Linked DNA regions of Homo sapiens: region 2 is linked to region 1. Evidence: fine-mapped expression QTL. A gene starts in region 1. The other region holds a variant in brackets. All regions are shown on one strand. Distances are between the middles of the regions.

Evidence for each region. PIP is the estimated chance that this variant, and not a neighbour inherited with it, causes the effect. A credible set is the group of variants that fine-mapping cannot tell apart.
Region 2: its variant is the best candidate, but not a certain one, in a credible set for the expression of HMGCLL1 in gastroesophageal junction (GTEx, PIP 0.77).

Annotation. Positions count from the first base shown.
Region 1 is chr6:55,577,912-55,580,832 of GRCh38, reverse strand. HMGCLL1 (3-hydroxy-3-methylglutaryl-CoA lyase like 1) reads left to right here and starts at 1,641. Exons shown (of 9, transcript NM_001042406.2): 1 at 1,641-1,885. The coding sequence starts at 1,778.
Region 2 is chr6:55,461,700-55,464,620 of GRCh38, reverse strand. The region is part of intron 7 of HMGCLL1 (3-hydroxy-3-methylglutaryl-CoA lyase like 1); the gene reads left to right. Among named protein-coding and RNA genes, the nearest start is that of HMGCLL1, 120 kb to the left of the region's middle. The variant C/T (reference allele first, on the strand shown) is at 1,293.

The sequences.
Region 1 (2,921 bases):
AGTCATGCTTAGGTAAATAACAACCGGAGTTTTGGTGCTTTACAGAGTTTTAAGCGCATCCAGGAATTGGATAACTTCACTTTAGCAGTTCAGGGAATGTTCTCCAGGTTAAACATCCGGCTGGGCGCGGTGGCTGACCCCTGTAATCCCAGCACTTTGGGAGGCCGAGGAGGTCAGACCACGAGGTCAGGAGATCGAGACCATCCTGGCTAACGCGGTGAAACCCCGTCTCTACTAAAAATACAAAAAATTAGCCTGGCGTGGCGGCCGGCGCCTGTAGTCCCAGCAGCTGGGGAGGCCGAGGCAGGAGAATGGCGTGAACCTGGGGGGAGAAGCTTTCAGTGAGCCGACATCGCGCCACTGCACTCCAGCCTGGGCGACAGAGCGAGACTCCGTCTCAAAAAAAAAAAAAAAAAAAAAAAAAAAGAAAGAAAAAAGAAAAAAAAAATCCTTGGTTAACTGTGAGAAGAAGACTATGACCTCCTCATCCTCTTTGCCCTTTCTAGTGCAGTTTTACCGAAGGATCTACACGATTTCTCTTCCACTCTTTGTCTTTTTCCTCCCTTAACCCATTTATTTTTATTACCTGTGGAAGTCTCACTGCCCACCCCCCAAACCCCCACCCATGCAACACACAAGTGGTAAGGATGGTTTGACTTTGAATGGTAAATTTCTTCTGTGTGTTTATACTACGGTGTGCATCGGTTGGCTCCTGGTTTACATTTGCTCCATCAGCCACCAGGGCTGATGCGTATTCCTGGCCATGGACACCCTGGCTGGGTCTCCGGAAGACCCTAGGTATCCTGCACGAGACTATTCTTGATGACTATGTCATTTTAGCTGCAAACCACTGAACCCACTGCGAAGATTATTAGGGTGTGACAATACACGTAAGTTTACATGTGAAAGTGAGGGGGGGAAGGTAGGCCGGTGGTCTGCTCGAAGGCTATTTTTTCAAACCCTCTCTTCCACTAAAAATGTCTCCAATTCTAATATCCTAAGAACTTGTATAGAATTTTCCGTTTGGATAAATCTAGTCCTTAGGGCTTTAATAATTTTGTGCCATGAGACTTTTAAACACGCAGTTCCATTTCAGCGCTTAACCGCAGCACCAACTTACAGCTTACCTCTCATTTAGGAACGTACCTCTGAGAGTACCTCTGACATGTAACCTAATTTAAGACTATCTTTTCCTTTTCATTAGACTGTTGGATATGTTTTAACCTTGCTGATTGCCTCAAAAACATTTTTAAATAGAGCTTATTGTTATAAAGCATAAACTCCGTGAGCTCAACGGTAGGCAAATCTACACTTGAGCACCCAAGGCTGCAGCTGGGAATGAACGAACTCATCAACATAAACACTCACGCCCCTTCCTTTTATTTTAGACCCCTTTTCTTCTACACCTGATCTATGCCAGGTGAGAAGTAGGTGGGCACGTTAAGATACAGTCAGCCCTGGGCGCTCAGTGTAGTGCGGAAAATGAGACACCCCTGGACATCCTCTGGCTCAGCTCCTTTCTCTCCTGTTCAGGTGCTCGGCATTTCTGTCGATTCCCGCAGGTGCCCCGTGCACCCGCTGCCCCAGGCGCGGCCACCTGCCACGCCCCACTCCCCGCCCTCTCGGCGCCGCCGCAGTGCGCAGAACAGCTCTGGTCCTCACAGCCAGTGCACCGGAGGGGCGCGCTCCCGAGCTGGCGCAGTTTCCCAGCGCGGTGCCCGCCCCTCATCCTCCTCCAGTCTCCCTCCCCTCGCCGACTGCCGCCCCAGGCTCCGCCATGGGGAATGTGCCATCCGCGGTGAAGCACTGCCTCAGCTACCAGCAGCTTCTCCGGGAGCATCTCTGGATCGGGGATTCAGTGGCAGGGGCGCTCGACCCCGCGCAGGTACCACCTCGCGGCCCAGGGTGTCCCCACCCTCATGCGCACACTGACAGCCAGCCTCTCTCCCTGCAACCTCTTGGTGCCCTCCTCCCTTTATGTCACCTCCTCACCCCAGGACCCTTCCCGCAGCAGTTCTGTCGTGTTAGGCCGCACCCCTTAAACGGTTTCCCGTTATCTCTCTTCGGTGAATGTATCGACCCGCCTCTACAGATCAGACCCTGCAAAATCCCTGCCTGTGACCATTTGCTGGTCGCCTAAAGAAAAGAATTCCTTCTCTGTGTTTTCCTGGAAAGGGATGCATTACGTAATACAATTTGTATTCATAGGTATTCCTTCAAGGATACCGCCCTTATTCTCAGTGCTCCTTGTACTGTGTAACAAAGACTACAAATTTGTCACAATGTGAGGCAGAAAAAGGAATGAAACCGGTAGAAGGTTAAGAAGACATAGTAGGATGAAATAATCCATCAGAACATTAATTATCCCAAATGTATTTGTGCTTCAACAAACTTGAAAGAAAGTGTAAATAACAGCAATTTCAGACTAAAATTTATTCCCACATTGTTCCTGAAAGGGCATGTTAAGACAATAGGCAACTTAATATTATTCATATACTTATGATTTAATGCACTCTTAACCAGTGTCAGATAAATAAAGAAAAGGTGTATAAAGAAATTAACTTTTTCCTTAAAAAACTTGAAAATCTAAAATTCCACAAAATATTAAATAACTGATAATTGTTATGAAAATGTTGAAACATGGAATAAAGGAGGAGCACTGTGAGGACTTCTTGTTAAATTACAGGTGCTGGATACAAGATTATTTCTGATTCGACTAGTGAACAAAATAACTTCTGTTATTGTAATATTTTAGTCATTAAGCATAATTGTACCATGTGGATTTAAATCAACTATTCTAATATAAAATATTCATTTTCTATTGTGTATTCTCAGTTTAGTGTATCATATGTGAAATTGCAATCTTATCTTTACAAATTGGAATTCAGCATTTGTGTTCTTTAGAAGATATTTTGTTTCTC
Region 2 (2,921 bases), 120 kb after region 1:
TCTGTAGGTATGTACAAGGAGACTTGTTTAATCATTAATCTTGAGTAGATTATTAATCTGAATGAAACTGAATCAAATTCAGAACTGAGTGTGAGGCTAATTATTGTCATGCAATTTGCTTGTGTTTTGGAGAACTTGGTAGTAGGTTATATTTATTAAAAATATCCTGGAGGTGGTTATCCATGTATGTACACAGAAGCCTGGCAGTAGAAACGGCCTTTTAAACTCAAAAAATAATTAAACCACTAAAAGTCACATTAGTTAGTGTTATGGTTGCAGGATAGAATTTTTACATCTTTCACTTTTTCCTTTTCAATATGATTTCTACTTGCAACTAGGAGTCTAATATTTTTATCTAAAATAATCTTGTGAGATTTTTTAAGACAGTAAATTATCTTTATAAAAATCTATGACATAGACAGATTTAATTATGCTTTCAGTTGATATTGTACATTAGTAAATTAAGAGAATTAAATTCTCTTGGAATTTAATGTTAATATTATTCACAGCTATTGTCCTTCAACATGCATATCTTTCAAAATGTTAATTCTAGATAATTCTACAGAGCCCCTTTACCAATTTAATATTTAAAATTCAAAGAGTATGAACAAGTGAGGAATGAAACAAGCTATTATCAAAATATTTCAGTCTAAAGCGTTGGGTGGTTTCTGGACTTCTACCTGTTTTATATTCTCATTTTTTCTTCCTATTTTTTTTATGATTCTGTGCATACAAAGTATTGCCCTGGAGGTGAGACTTAAAACATTCAAAAGAGGTTGAAAATATTTTATTCTGAAAGTATATCCCAACTATTCTCTCAGGAAAGCAGGAATACGTGGAGCAGAAAAACGGACAGCTCAATCAAAAACAGAACAACAAACAAAGCTCACTTTCTTTCCATGATTATTCCATCTGGAGAGATGCCTAGGGGTTACTAGATTTAGGAAAAGAGGAAAGTAGACATTTAGTTTCAAATATGTAAATGTCTGCAGTTGCCCCAATGTTTGAAGCCAAAAATGTTATATTTGTATTATTATATTTTGAAGCAGTTGTATTACAATTTATTTCACTTCAGGAGGCTCTTAGGAAATTTGTATATTTTAGAATAACTTTTCTGGAATATTCTCTTTAGTAGAGAGTTCTAAAGAAACCTGAGGCATAAGAGTAAATAACTTAAATCATGAAATATAACATCTTTTAAAATTTATTTTTAAATAACCATGCAATTTTCACATTGTAAGGGCCACTTTTTCATGTATCATTTATCTCTCTTCTCAGCTAAAGACTGGGGC[C/T]GGGCACAGTGGCTCACTCCTGTAATGCCATGACTTTGGGAGGCCGAGGTAGGCGGTTTGCCTGAGGTCAGGAGTTCGAGACCAGCCTGGCCAACATAGTGAAACCCCGTCTCTACTAAAAATAGAAAAAAATTAGCCAGGCATGGTGGCATGTGCCTGTAGTCCAGCTACTCGGGAGGTTGAGGCAGGAGAATTGCTTGAACCCAGGAGGCGGAGGTTGCAGTGAGCCGAGATTGCGCTACTGCACTCCAGCCTGGGCAACAGAGCAAGACTCCATCTCAGAAAAAAAAAAAAAAAAAGAAAGAAAAAAGAAAAGATTGGACTCAACACCAAAAGCCCAGCATAACTCCTTTGTGAGTTTTGACCCTACATATTGTTCCAGTTCTGGGGCGATTCCTTGTACCTTTCATGCACAACTTTCCTTTACATAAACGATGTTTTTAATTGTGATGGAGTCAGTGCTGTGTCTACACGTTCTGCAGTTAACTACTCCTGAGAAGCCTATTGACTGAAATGTATAGCAGCAATATACTACCTAGAAAACTGATATATGTGAGTTATACCTACAACATAAGAAGTTTGTATAATTAGTTTAATAGTAAGTGGTGTTCAAAATAATTATTAGACCTTTCTATGGCAGCTTACCTAAGCACAGGTAAAGATGGCTGGCATTTTCATTAAATGCTCTAAGTCTAATAATTATTTGCATGCTCTAGGTTAGATACGTTTAAATAATTTATAAGATTCTATTGGCACAATATATATGGATTATGTTTTGAAACTTAAGTCTCTAGAAAAATTAAAGTCTCTAGAAAATTTAAATTTAAATTTCTGGACAAATTAAAATCATGCAGTTGTTATTCCCAAAATAGGGTGTGAAGGCAGATATGTGAGGGAGAGAGGTCATGGGGGCAGGGGAGACAGCTAAGATGTGGTATAATTGAGAAAGGGAACAAACCCACGGACTGAAGACATGAGCATACATGGTGAGCATAGGAAGGAAGGAAGTTATTTCGTATGTAGTTGCAACAGATAAAGATGAGAATTTTAAGAAAGGGAAGGTCCCAAGAGAGCAGATGGCAGCATTTTAGACGAGGAGTAATTCATGTTTTAGAAAGGTAAGCATAGAGAAGGAAAGCAGTCTTTCTTACCACATTTCCACATTTATGAGGTATTGTCATATAGTCTTCCTTATTTATTTATCCTAATTTTTGACAGAATTTGGCATTAGAATTACCCAAAAACCCCATAATCGCATGAATATATGGCATATCTGATGGTCTGGAAAGATTGTTTGGTGTTGATTTGCTGTATTTGGTAGGAATGTCATTTATATGGACCACAATGAATCATATGACCCTACTGCCATATTAGTTAACAATCAACCTGAATTATATTCTTTTTTATTTTTTCCTGCTACTTAATTGTCTTCTTCTAAAACTAGAGATATTATTGTTTTCATTAGCAAGGTGCTATTGAGTAGTTCTTCACAGGTATATATTTTGGAACATCCAGAGTAATCACTTTTTTATTGACTATCTTGAGTACTTTTTAGTTTATTTCAGTCTAAATAGTCAAATCAAGTGTACCTACATTTAAAATATGAACTATTACTTTGCTTATATCTTG